Homo sapiens: one gene and its partner. The protein of the gene in region 1 interacts with the protein of each later gene in a biochemical or structural test. Each region holds a gene or a part of one and is shown on either strand. Other genes may lie near its edges.

The links. The genes of interacting proteins can lie anywhere in the genome.
Region 2: the proteins of NHLH1 (region 1) and NFIA form a complex in vitro, tested with the Homo sapiens proteins (one study listed by BioGRID).

The regions. Positions count from the first base shown.
Region 1 is NC_000001.11:160,368,858-160,374,309, forward strand, and holds the end of NHLH1 (helix-loop-helix protein 1), read left to right. Parts: intron 1-1,699; 5' UTR 1,700-1,874; coding exon 1,875-2,276; 3' UTR 2,277-3,989; downstream 3,990-5,452. UniProt on the Homo sapiens protein: May serve as DNA-binding protein and may be involved in the control of cell-type determination, possibly within the developing nervous system.
Region 2 is NC_000001.11:61,399,473-61,407,560, forward strand, and holds part of NFIA (nuclear factor 1 A-type), read left to right. Parts: intron 1-4,631; coding exon 4,632-4,810; intron 4,811-7,089; coding exon 7,090-7,255; intron 7,256-8,088.

The DNA of each region.
Region 1 (5,452 bases):
CTGGGAAGCATCTAGAGTCATAGCTAACTTCTCTTGGGGCTGTGGCTGCAGTCTTGCTCAGATTTTTTCCTCCTTTTATTTATTCATTTAGATAAAAAACAGCATACAATTTATAATCTTAACCATTTTTAAGTGTACAATTCAGTAGTGTTCAGTATATTCACATTGTTGTGAAACAGATCTCTAGCAATTTTTCATCCTGCAAATGTATAATTCTATACCCACTAAACAACAACTCCCCTTTACCCCCTCCCTCCAGCCCCTGGCAACGGCCATTCTACTTTCTGTTTCTATGAATTAGACTACTTTAAATACCTCATATAAGTGGAGCTATACAGTATTTGTGTTGTTACTGGTTTATTTCACTTATCATCATATCCTCAAGGTTCATTCATGCTGTAGCATGTGACAGAACTTCCTTTTTAGGGCTGAATAATATTCCACTGTATGTATATAATACATTTTGTTTATCTGTTGTCTATTGATGGACATTTGGGTTGCTTCTACCTCTTGGCTATTGTGAATAGTGCTGCTATGAACATGAGTGTGCAAATATCTCTTTGACACCCTACTTTATTTGTATATATACCCAGAGGTAGGATTCCTGGAGCATATGGTAGTTCTATTTTTTATTTTTTGAGGAACATTTATACTGTTTTCCATAGTGGTTGCATCATTTTGCAATCCCAACAAGGCATAAGGGTTCCAATTTCTCCACATCCTTGCCAAGACTTATTTTTTGTTTGTTTGGTTTTTGTTTTTATAGTAGCCATCCTAATGGGTATGAAGTGATATTTCATAGTGGGTTTGATTTGCATTTTAATGATTAGTGATGTTGAACATTTTTTCATATGCTTGTTGGCCATTTGTATAAAATCTTTGGAGAAATGTGTATTCTAGTCCTTTACCCATTTTTTTCTTAAAAAATGTTTATTTATATAAATTTATGGGGTACAAGTGCAATTTTGTTACATGCATAGATTGCATAATGGTCAAGTCAGGGCTCTTAGGATGTCCATCACCTGAATAACATACACGGTACCCATTCTGTAATTTCTCATTTCACGCCCCTCCCAATCCCTCCTTTGCCCATTTTTAAATTGGGTTATTTGATTTTTTGCTGTTGTTGAGTTGTAGGATTTATTTATATGTTCTGGATATTAACCCCTTATCAGATATATAATTTGCAAATATTTTCTCCCATTCCATAGATTGCCTTTTCACTCTGTTGATTATGTTCGTCAATAAATTAAAGTCTGATGTGGTCCCGTTTTTTCTATTTTTGCTTTTTGTTGCCTGTGCTTTTGGTGTCATTTCCAAGAAATCACTGCTGAGTCCAACATCATGAAGGTCTCTCCCTATGTTTTCTTCTAGGAGTTTTATGGTTTTAAGTCTTTAATCCTCTTGCTCAGTTTTAACCTGCCTGGTGTATCCTTCTCATCACTTCTGTTCCTTTCCTGTTACTCGTTTTCTCTTCCCTTCTTACTACCTTTCGTCCTCCTCTTCCTTTCACCCTGTCCACCTGCCTCTCTGTCTCTCGGCCTCTCCCCACCCCCCGACCCCCACCAGTTTCTGCTGTTCTTCCCTCACATTCACAGTTCCTTACCCCTCCCAGCCCATCTCAAACCTGCTTTCCCACCTCTGAGCTGAGCATTCCCTCCTCCCTCCGCTGCTATCACTTCTCTCTTCTCTTTTTCAGGCTTCAGACTGGCACCCTGACCATGGAACCCTGAAGTGGCAGTGACTTCTAGAGCTCAGTGGCAGACCCCACGACCCTTCCTCCCCCTTCCTCCCCCTCCCACCACCAGCTTTCAAGCTCCCAGAGGGAGGGGTGGGGAGGGGATCCTGATCTCACAGGGCAGGGGGCTTCCATCATGATGCTCAACTCAGACACCATGGAGCTGGACCTGCCGCCCACCCACTCAGAGACTGAGTCGGGCTTCAGTGACTGTGGGGGCGGGGCGGGCCCTGATGGTGCCGGGCCTGGGGGTCCGGGAGGGGGCCAGGCCCGAGGCCCAGAGCCGGGAGAGCCTGGCCGGAAAGACCTGCAGCATCTGAGCCGCGAGGAGCGCCGGCGCCGGCGCCGCGCCACAGCCAAGTACCGCACGGCCCACGCCACGCGAGAACGCATCCGCGTGGAAGCCTTCAACCTGGCCTTCGCCGAGCTGCGCAAGCTGCTGCCTACGCTGCCCCCCGACAAGAAGCTCTCCAAGATTGAGATTCTGCGCCTGGCCATCTGCTATATCTCCTACCTGAACCACGTGCTGGACGTCTGAACTCAGCCTGTCTCCCACCTCCCGGGCCTCTCTGGGGCCCCTTTCCACCGCTCACTGCTTAGAAAGGCCGCATCCTCCCCGAGCCCTTATACCTTGGCATGGAGTCCCAAAGGCCCTGGGCACAGGCAGAGAGCCCACCGGCTGGTCATGAGGGCCTCTTCCTTTCTCTGACCCAGGCACCTCGAGGGCTATTCTCCTGGGTTCCTTCCGGGGTTTATTGCTGAGGCCCAGCTGTGCAGAATTGTTTGCTAGTGTGGTTGGTATGGAATCCTTGCTGGCTTTACTAAGCCAGCCACACTTGGAGTCTGCCCCCAAGCTCTCTCACTGAATGCTGCCTCTTCTACCCCTATGTCCAAATTTTCAGCCACCACAGACCTCAGCTGTGTATCCTATCTGTTCTAGCTTCTCCTGCCCCTGGTGGGGATGGGCTGTCAGAATTGCAAGGGAGGAAGGCTGGGGTTAGAGTGGGGAGTGGGCTTCTTCCTCCAAGATCTCAGTCTCTCAGTGCTTGGCAGAGGGGTGAGGCCCTGGGGAGGCAGGGGTTGGTGCCCTGACTCCTGTGAGGGGAATCTCAGTAGCTGGGAATTATGGAAAAACTCTTCCTGTTTCTGTCCATCTTGTTCCTGTGGCTTAGCACATACAGACCTCAGATCTTACTTGGTAGTGAGTGCCTTGCCCTCTTTGAGCTATTTGGCTACTTCCCTGTCCCTCTGACTCCTACTGTCCCAATTTTCTCCCTCCCTGTGTGTCACTAGAGAAAAAAAAAAACAAAAACCTAGATTCCGGATTAGGGGATGACATCCCAAACAGCCCGGAGTATTTGCAGAAGGCTCAGGCAACGAGTGGGCCACATCTCACTTCTGCTTCCTCATCTCAGCCCACTCTGAAAATGTGCAGCACCCTCACTGGTTCCTCCCCCCAACGCAAGGAGGATGCCCAATTGTTGCCCTCTGAAAATGCACAGTTCTCCTGGCCCTAGGACTTACTTATTACATTTTTTTCTCTTTCCTTGAGCTGCCTTTGGCAAGGGAAGAGACCCCCAACTCTGCGCCCCTACTCCATGCTGCTGATCCCCACCTGCGCACTATAGCTCAGGGTCAGCAGTGGAATGAAGGGCCTTAGAACCTGCATAGAAGAAATGAACTCACTGCATTTCTGTGCTCCCTCCTCCCTCGCACCAAACTCCTAGCTCTACAAGTATATTTATTTATTTATTTATTTATTCATCTATTTATTTACTTATTTATTTATTTATAAATATTGCTATTTATTGCCGAGTTGTGCACTTTGGGGTAGAGTGAGGGGCTCCCAGCAGCTCTAGCTGGGTCTCTCTTGCTTCCTCCCTGCTTACGCCTTTCCTTTTCTTGCTCCTTCTTCAACTCCTGGTGTGTGTGAGCATGCCCTTTGCTTGCCACACCATATCCTTTCCCCAGATCCACCTGTCCTGACACTCTAGTCCTCCAGGATAGTGCTCCTCCCCCAGCTCCAGGGCTCCTGGATGTCCTTCCTCAACTCCCTCCACCCCTAGACAATCCTACCTGGTCCCATCTGCCTCTTTTCTCTCCCCAGCCTGCCCTGTGACCCTTGCCTCTTCCTGATACTCCCAAGAGCAGGCCCCAGGGGTCTGTGTCACATATCTCTGTGTGATTCCTTCTGGTTGCATCCCCAATTTCATACAAAAAGAAAAATAAAAGTGACCTCGTTCTAGCACCAGGTATGGTTGTGGCTCATTCAATTGGGTTAGGAAGCTGGCCTGCAGGTTATGGTAGGGTGGGCATTGAGGGTCCTAGGCTTCGTAGGCTCTTCTGATGGGGTCAGGAGAGCTCAGTTTGGGGAACAAATGAAGACAGAGAAAAGGGGCCACAGGGAAAAGAGGTGCAGGGGAGAGTATAACATACAGGTCCAAGATCTCCTCACCAAAATCTGGGTGCCAGATACTCCCTTCTTGGCACTAATTTAGTGACACTATCTGACTTCTCTGATGTTGTGCTTCCGCTCCTGCTCTCTATGGCCTGAGAAGGAGGTGAATATTTCGGTGGAACCCAAGTTAAACATGTGTCTGTGGGTCCATGCTGCTGGGAAAAGCTATGGTATGAAACTGAGACATTGCCTTCCCCTTTATTGTCTCTAGGCTGGGTCAAAATTCCCTGCAATCTCAGTTCTTGGCCTATTTTGTGTTCCCCAGCCTTAGGATACTGGGGAAAACAGATGGCAGGCCTGGGACTCAGAGAAGAATATGGACAGGGATAAAAAAAAAAAAAGAGTGCTGAAGGGACCCTCAAATGAATTTATAGATGGGGACACTAAAGCTCAGAGAAGGGTAGGGTCTTACCCAAGGCCACACAGCTAACTGGGGGCACAACTAAGGCCCAAATCCAGGTTCTTTCTACCATATGCTGCCAACTCCCCTCTGCCTCCCTAAAATGACCCAGGCTGACAGTTAGCCCTCTTTTGGACCCCATATTTTCATAGGTGCATTGATAAACTAGAGAGGATTTAGGGTTGTGTGGCGAAGAAACCAAAAGGTCTGGAGACCACTTTATAGAAGAAATAGTTGAAAAACTGAGGATATGTGTCTTGATAAGAGTAGACTTGGGGGTAATATGACACCCATCTTTAAATATTGAAAGAAGAATCAAAAATGGATATTCTGTGGGGCCCCAGTAGGCCGAACAAAACCCGTGAGTAGAAGTTAGAAGAAAGCAGATTTTAATTTGAAGAAAAATTTTGCAACACCTGGAGCTGTCCAGCAATGGCACTGACTGCCTCAAGAGGAGAACTCCAAATAGAGAAGCTGGAGAGTCAACCACACGCAGAGAAATCATAGAGCACATTGCTGCCTCAGATGGAACACTGGCTAGGTTCATTAGAAGATCCTCTCCAAACTTAAGGTCATACGAGAAGGCTGAAGGCAAACAGCAGGAGGGAAATGCAGAGACAACTTTCAGTCCCTGAAATATTTTCTTTTTTCTTTTTATCTTTTTGAGACAGAGTCTTGCTCTATTGCCCAGGCTGGAGTGCAGTGGCGGGATCTTGGCCCACTGCAACATCCACCTCCCCATTCAAGCCATTCTCGTGGTTCAGCCTCCTGAGTAGCTGGGACTACAGGCGCCCGCTGTCATGCCCGGCTAATTTTTGTGTTTTTAGTAGAGATGGGTTTTCGCCATGTTGGTCAG
Region 2 (8,088 bases), about 99 Mb from region 1:
TGTGTGAGAATCTGCAACGGTTCATGGACAAGGAATAAAACAATTAAGGCAATGTCAGGGTTATAATACAGAAGAACATATTTCAACCCATAAAATTTTGGTTTGAGGGAAAATGTGTGAGAGTTATTAGAGTTCTTGGAGGATGAGCTTGAGAAAAACTACTGGAAATACTAAGAGATTACTTTCTTCTTCTATCTCTTTTTCTTCCCTAAGACTTATAAAAGCAGAAAAATGCAAGATTCCAAGCTTGTCTGGACACAGCTCCCTGATACCATCCTATTTCATATGGCCCACGCTTAGATTTTCTAACTAGTTCTGACTCCTCTTAAGAGCACTCTTATGTGTCTACAAGACCTCCTCCCCATAGTGGACTCTCAGACCAAGAATCACTGGTTGTATTATAGAAGTCTTGCAACATATCCAATAATACAATAATGATCCTGACCTTCTCCTTTCTCAGTCTTAATAAATTCTGCTTTTAACGGAAGAAGCATTTTTGAGTTAAACATGTATATGTATTTTTTCAATTGTTTGAATTTTTAACTTTTTCTCCTTTAAACTAAAACCAAGAGAGGATTTTTAAGAACTGGTGGGCTGCTGGACTGGTGGGGAGGGAATGAACAAGTAAACCAACCTGACTGACCTGCTTTCGTTTTTCAAAGTATCCAGTAATATGATCATTTTGTAATAAATAGCTGAGTATTACACCCTTTGGGAAATTGTGGCTCTCTGTTTCTTTTCGTTGTGGCTACTTTGTTCAGGATGTGTAGGCAGTGCCATTGCAGCCAAAGAAACCTGATCAAATTTCCTTCCTTCCCATCTTATTTATATTCTTTGTGAAAAGCCCAAACAGTTGTTTTAAACAAGTCTGGCCACTCGTTAAAGTTTAAACTAGTAGTGAGATCCATCAGGAGTGAAGTGTTTCTGACACTCTCTGCTGCTCCTGGCCTAGGGTACTAAGAGTATTAGATGCCGGAAGCAGCCAATTTTGTAGTGTCTTTTAATACACAAAATTGTATTAACATCAATGTGGATACAGATGGATGCACTGCAATAAACTGTAACCACTTGAGAAAAGCCTTTATTGACTCTCAAGTAAATAATGCACATTTTAAAGGATCTAAATATGCATTTACATAATGTGCTATAATTTTTTATGGTGTCAACTACTCACACACACACATCCATAAGACATGTTTTTCTTCGTCAAAAATCTGGACTCATACCATTCTTCGTGCATTCCATTAGCATCATGCCAAATTCATAATGGTAGTTTTTTTCTATAAAGCCTGATCTGGCCACCTCAAAATATAGTTGATGAATTTTACTCTTTAATTGATTTAACCCCAGTGGCTCTTTCTAAAATGATTTGAGACAAATAAAAACTTAGGTACAGTAAAAACATCCAAGATGAAGAGAGAAAACAAGAAATAGGAGAGAAGAGAAACAAAGTTAGGCAGGCATTGATGACATCTTAATTCTGAGTTTCAGTGGGTTTCATTGTCTGGTAGAAGAGGAATAGCAGGTTATCTAGAGAAATAGCATCTATTTAATAATAACTAGAGCTTTGTGATGTCAGTAACGTAACTATTTTCTGTTTGAAGAAATGAAGGTTCAGGATCTCGAATGATTTCTCTCCAGTTGCACAGTGAACTGATGACTGAACCAGAAAGTCCAAAGCATGAGAAAGTAAGGGTTGCAAAGGATGACCCTTTAAAATGCAGACTCAGCAATTGCCCAATTTGAAACTACAGGCTAAATGATTTCCTGGTATTAATTAAGAATTAATTGATTCTTATAAATCAGTCATTGTAGAATTAATTCCATATAGTACCATATGTTCTTGTGTTTGTGTTAAACTCTGTTCCACAAGGAAATGGTGAATAAATTGTTTTTAGTAAAATAAAAAACGAAGGTCTAAATTTAAGTTGCTAATGATTGTCTTTTACGTATTTAACAACAACAAAATGAGGGAAAGGATGTTTATAACAGTTAATGAGGAGATGACAGGGTGCTTTTGAGTTATTTCTTCTATCTCATTTCTTTAAAGATCAGCTCTGCTTGATCTTTGCTCAAGTGAATTTCTTTTTTGGGCAGCATTTTCTGTAGGCCACCGTGATTTCATAATCTAACAATTACCCATCACTTTCCATTGAGCACCTGAGGCAGCGGCACTTTATCTTCAAGGTCAGCCTACCAGGGGCTCTTGTCAGCAGAATTGGCACCTTTGTGTTTGGCATTCTGCAAAAGTTGAGTGTTTCGTTTTGTTAGGCTCAGTATATTCTCAGCCTAGTTTGGGAAATATCACATTCTGTCCTTAACTAGTGACTATTCCATCAGACGCAGGGTACCGAGTACAAGTTTTTTGCCACCAGCAAGGAGGACTGTACCATGTTGGATGAAAAAATTCCTTTGATTCTTGAAAGCCAATGGCATAATTTGCAGAGTAAGAGATGACCAGAGCCATTTAACTTTTTAGCTTGTGGGTTTTAACAAGCAACAACAATAGATCCCAAGATTTATCATTCATTGCAGGAAGTCCTAAGTTTTACTCATTTTTCTTTTTTTTTTTTTTTTTTTTTTGAGACGGAGTCTCCCTCTGTCGCCCAGGCTAGAGTGCAGTGGCGCGATCTCGGCTCATTGCAAGATCCGCCTCCCAGGTTCATGCCATTCTCCTGCCTCAGCCTTTGGAGTAGCTGGAACTACAGGCACCCACCACCACACCTGGCTAATTTTTTTGTATTTTTAGTAGAGATGGGGTTTCACCGTGTTACCCAGGGTGGTCTCAATCCCCTAACCTCATGATCCGCCTGCCTCAGCCTCCCAAATTGCTGGGATTACAGGCATGAGCCACCGTACCAGGCCAGTTTTACCGATTTTTCTAAAAGCTCCCTGGCTCTTGACCAGGTGGAGAAACCAAGTTTTGGTTTTAGCAAATTTTATTCTATGTTTAACGGTATGATTATCTTATTAACCTCTGTTTATTCAGTCATTCACTGCACATTCAACAAATATTTATTGAGTGCCAGACTCAGTTCTGGGGATATTGCAGTGGGTTGAAAAGGTATTTACGAAGATGGAGAAGGCTGGGAGAAGTGTAAGCTTGAGAGGAGAAGGTAATGAAAATTCTGATTCAAATAGGTTATGTTTGAGACATCCTCAATTGTATGACCGATGGCAAAATTTCATCTGTTTTGGCTCAGATTTGTTTCTTGAGCCCATAGTAGGAGCCTATGAATATTTATTGGGCAGATTAAAGATTGCATAAATTAAAGGGTTGCACCAGACCACCTGCAAGACATGGATTGGAAAGTTGCTTCCCCTCCAATCGCCCATTTCCAGTCTTTTTGAAAACTACAGATGTCACTCTGAACCCCATAGCATGAGCCATTTCAGTCATTAGTCAGAAAGTGCCCCAATCATGAGGAGATCCCGGTAGGGAACAAAGAACCTATGCCCAGCAACTAATACAGATGCATTCTTTTTCACAGCCTTTAGCCATGCAAGTGGGATAGTGGTAGAAGTGATGGCCTGTCTTACTGAGTTTCTCTTCAGTATTATGAGTCATTCTTGGTATTGGAAAGGTCTTATTTTCCAAAATGTGGACATTCCTGTGATTTTCAGTTTAAAGATTTAAACCGAAGAAAGGAAAGATAAATACTTTCATCTCCTCTAATTTGGGAGAGGTTTCTCTGGCTCTCATTGAGAAGCAAGAGCTGCTGCTATCTTGGCTTGACTTGGTTTGAATATCTGCAACCTTCCCATGCACTGCTCTTATCCTCCAGCCAGTTTTATCAATCATCCTTCTAATTCAAGGGCAAAAGTTCTCTTAGAGAAGTTATTAGGCACCTCACATAAGTTTTTTTAATCTAATGTAATCTTCTTGTTCACATGAAATTTACCAGGGTTCAAATGTAAGGGAGCAGTAGTTGTCTGAGTCTTTTATCAGTTTTTATGGGCACAGGGCCAACATTTTAGCAGGGGTCACTGCCTGCTTACCCTGTGGGTTCCCCTGCTGTAACATATGTGCATTTCTGAGTTTGTCTTTGAAATGGCATCTGAAGGCGACATAAACCATCCGTGTAAAGTGAGGCACCCAAATTGCATGGGCTCATTAAGTGATCATTTACTACATACTTCAAAAAATTTTCATCCTGAATTAGTCCCTAGAAATTTCCTTGAAAGGGGTATAAGAGGTTTAACAATGAATTATTGTCTATGGATAGCTCAGCGTGAAAGGGGATCCATATGTGCAAACTAGAATTTGTCATATGTAATGTCAGTTAAGTCAGGTCTAATCTACCAAATACATTTTTTATTGCTTGCTTCATTAAAAAGGCTCTTAAGGTAATGAATAATCTTCAGCCTCACCAAGGATTATTAATGCCTTTATAACTCATGTCCACTGAAAATAGAAAGACAGCTTGAAACTCTACCCTAATCTAACCTCCGTGTTTGTCTTAGAGCCTTAAGGAAGAAAATCTGTCAGACCTATCCAGTGTTAAATTCAGTCACATGAGCAATATTGTGAATCGGGCCAGGAAGAGAAATAAAGGAGGAAGTTGAATCGGGTTCAGCTATGACAAAGCAGGTCTTTCTTTTCATAACCCTGATGTTTTCTTTTCCTGCAGCAAGTCCGCATGCAACACCATCGACTCTTCATTTCCCGACATCACCCATTATCCAGCAGCCTGGGCCTTACTTCTCACACCCAGCCATCCGCTATCACCCTCAGGAGACGCTGAAAGAATTTGTCCAACTTGTCTGCCCTGATGCTGGTCAGCAGGCTGGACAGGTGGGGTTCCTCAATGTAAGGAAACCTCTTTTTTTCCATTTCTTTAGAAATGTTAGCCGAATATAAAAATAACAAGGGGAGACCTTATGATCATGTGACGTTGTGCTCTAATGTTGTGCTGACTGACTGCAGGCAAATGTCATATTTATTCTAGATTGTGGGAAAGTTAACTTGGTCTAAGAGTGATTAGTCAGGGTTTAAAAACAGTGTTTGTGTTAAGTTTGCAACTGTCAAGTTTATGGATATAAATCAGCTCAAGGGTGAACTATATAACCTTCTAAGTTCTGTGGGCTGATCATTCCACCTCGTGCATTCTAACCCCAGGGCTCATACAGTTAACAAAATAGAAAGACCAAGTAGTTTTAAATAATGATTTGGGGTGGTAGAGAAAGGTAGGGAGATGAAGGGGACAGATGTTTCAGATCAACTAAGTTGATATTTTTGAAAAATACAGTCTTGTAACACTTTAGATCAAGTTGACCAGTACTTGAACTCAAGATGCTGAAAGTACAGTTTATTATGGTTTGTTATTTCTGCAAGTCATTATCTTTCCCACTTATCTTGGTATAAAGCTAAACAGTGTTCAATAGCTTCACATGAATGTTTTTATTTTTCCTCAAATAAACCAAATAATCACAATTTGAAATGGCATTCCAAATGTAAAAGTGATTTTTAAAAATCAGAAATTTTATTTCAAATATAGGATTAGATGTTTACAGTGGAAAGCTGTATCTCAAGGCCAATAATAATAAACAACGACCAGCATAAAGCCAAATTTGATTTTCCTTTTCTACTAATAACTGTGCATGAAGTCACAGACTAGCCATAATTATTACTGGCCAATTTAGGATAGTATGTCACACCATCCTGTCACCGATTTTTTTCACTTGCAGAAATACCTGATTCTGCATATCTGCGCCAGAACAGGCAGCTTTGACTAATGTCTGGTGATGTGTTAGCAGATACATTTCTGTCTAGACAACAAATCAATATGGTGCCTCTTTTCTTTTTGCTTGTACATTCATTTGCTTGGCTTATTCTAAAGCATTCACTTATGGACTCTCAGCCCACTCAGAAATAACGCAAAGGCAAGGTTGCTGGCAAGAAAGCACAGCATTCTGATCGTCAGACGAGGTAGTCTTTGAGGAGCAATACTAAATATATAAGTACTAAATATATAAGTAAATGTTGATGGGGGAGTGAGACTGCCTCTGTAGAATTATTAAGCTTAAATGTAAAAGCCTGGGACAGCAGAATCTCCTTCAACCGAATTTTGATTGGGGACTAAATGTGAACTGTTGTCGTTGGTTGAATAGAGGCCTCTTGGGAAACAATGAAAAAACTGAGCTGATCACCAGCATCAAGCATCTGACTTCTAAATTATTAACCATTTTTGTAATAGTCCTGACACCCTATATAACTGTCAAATGCCCAGTTTTGCATTTTGATCAGAATTTTATAGGACTTAAGGCAGGTCTCTTCATGAAACTATTTTGAAAAAATTGAAAATAAAATGGGTTTTATTGCTCTCTTTGGAGGGGAATTTTTTGTTAAAGAGCTGTTATTTGGTTGTTTTAACATCAGGCAGCAAAATAAATATGACTCTTATGGCATATGCTTATATAATTTAAATCAAAATTAGAAGTGATATTTTTCCCTAGCAGACTTCTGACAGCTGAATTCTAAAGTTTCTGTGCCTGATGTTATACAATATGTGAACAAAATTTTCTATGTTCACTTAACACATTTATTAAATGTTATATAATATCAACTTTGAAGAGTGAAAATAAAATATTACTTTTTTATCTCAAGTGCATATTTAGGAAAATTTATTCTATCTATGTAAAGAAACATAGTGGAATAATGCCACAGTCCATAAAACACTTAGATATTAAATATTTAATAATCATGAGAAAGATAATGAAGGTAGCAGTTAATACAGAAAAATACAAAAGATTCCAAGCAAAAGTTGGTTACTCAGGGGACAAATCCAAAGTGATAATTGGCAGGTGATTTTATGAAACCAGATGCAAAGAAGGACAATGTAGTTCAAGAGATAAGTTTAGGATGCATGGAGCACATGTGGCTAAGAGTACTTTTGTGAAATGCCTTAAGAACAGAACCCAACAATGGACATTTCCGTATGGGCTTATGGAAGAATTGAAGCAGCTAGATACTTAGTAATTTACATTAAAGGTGCCTGATGAATATTTTGTTTTCAGAAGCAGCTAATGGTTGCTGTCTCTTTCTTCTTTTTCTTGTACGTGTGTTTTCTGCCCCCCCCCCCCCCACAGCCCAATGGGAGCAGCCAAGGCAAGGTGCACAACCCATTCCTTCCCACCCCAATGTTGCCACCGCCACCGCCACCACCGATGGCCAGGCCTGTGCCTCTGCCGGTGCCAGACACAAAGCCTCCAACCACGTCAACAGAAGGAGGTGCAGCCTCCCCCACGTCACCAAGTAAGTATGGCTGCGACAAGGCGCCGGTCACTTCTAAAGCTGTATGCACTGGAATCCACACTTAGGCTTTGTCCCTCACTGTATAGGCTCTAGAAAGAGGCACAGATCCCCAGTGATGTTGTAGCATGAGTTTGCCAGACCGAGAATCAAAGTGAACATGACTCTTGGGTACTCCACCAGATGAGGAAAACACTGGGTGTTGGGTGGATGAGATGGTGTAGCTACATACCTAGGACTGAAGTCAAGTTATGAGCTATTACATTTTGTATATTATTTGAGGGATTTCAAATGCTATTCCCATCATCAAGCAGCAGCTACTTACATGGATTCTGCTTAGAAAAAGTTCCTCATTCTTACAGACAGCCCTGCCTTCCAGGAACTTGCAGTCTAAGAGAAATGCACTTGAAAGTTATATACCTCATACATCAAATAGGAGAAAATGTCTAGATCAAAGCACCAACTCAAAGGTGTGTACACTGACCATTCGCTGAGAGTAAGAGCCTGGCAGAAGATCAATGCTAGTAGCCCTGGCAGTCGCATGGTGAGGTTTGGCAGAGGTTGGGGTAGGGGCTGGGGTACGGAGATAGAGGGGAGAGTAGGATGGAAGGAGGAGAGAAGTCTTGGCTCTTCTCTGAACAGTCTGAGAACATTTAATCAAAGAATATAAGATTTCACAACCCTTTTAGATGATGGGAATGATTACTTGAACTAGAGAGAGAGTAATTCTCCAGATATTCCCTGATGTTTTAGATATGGCAAGGGGATAGAAATAGTTTGAATGCACAAATGTGCCTTTTATTAGTGCCTGGAATAATGACAAAAAGAGTGATGGC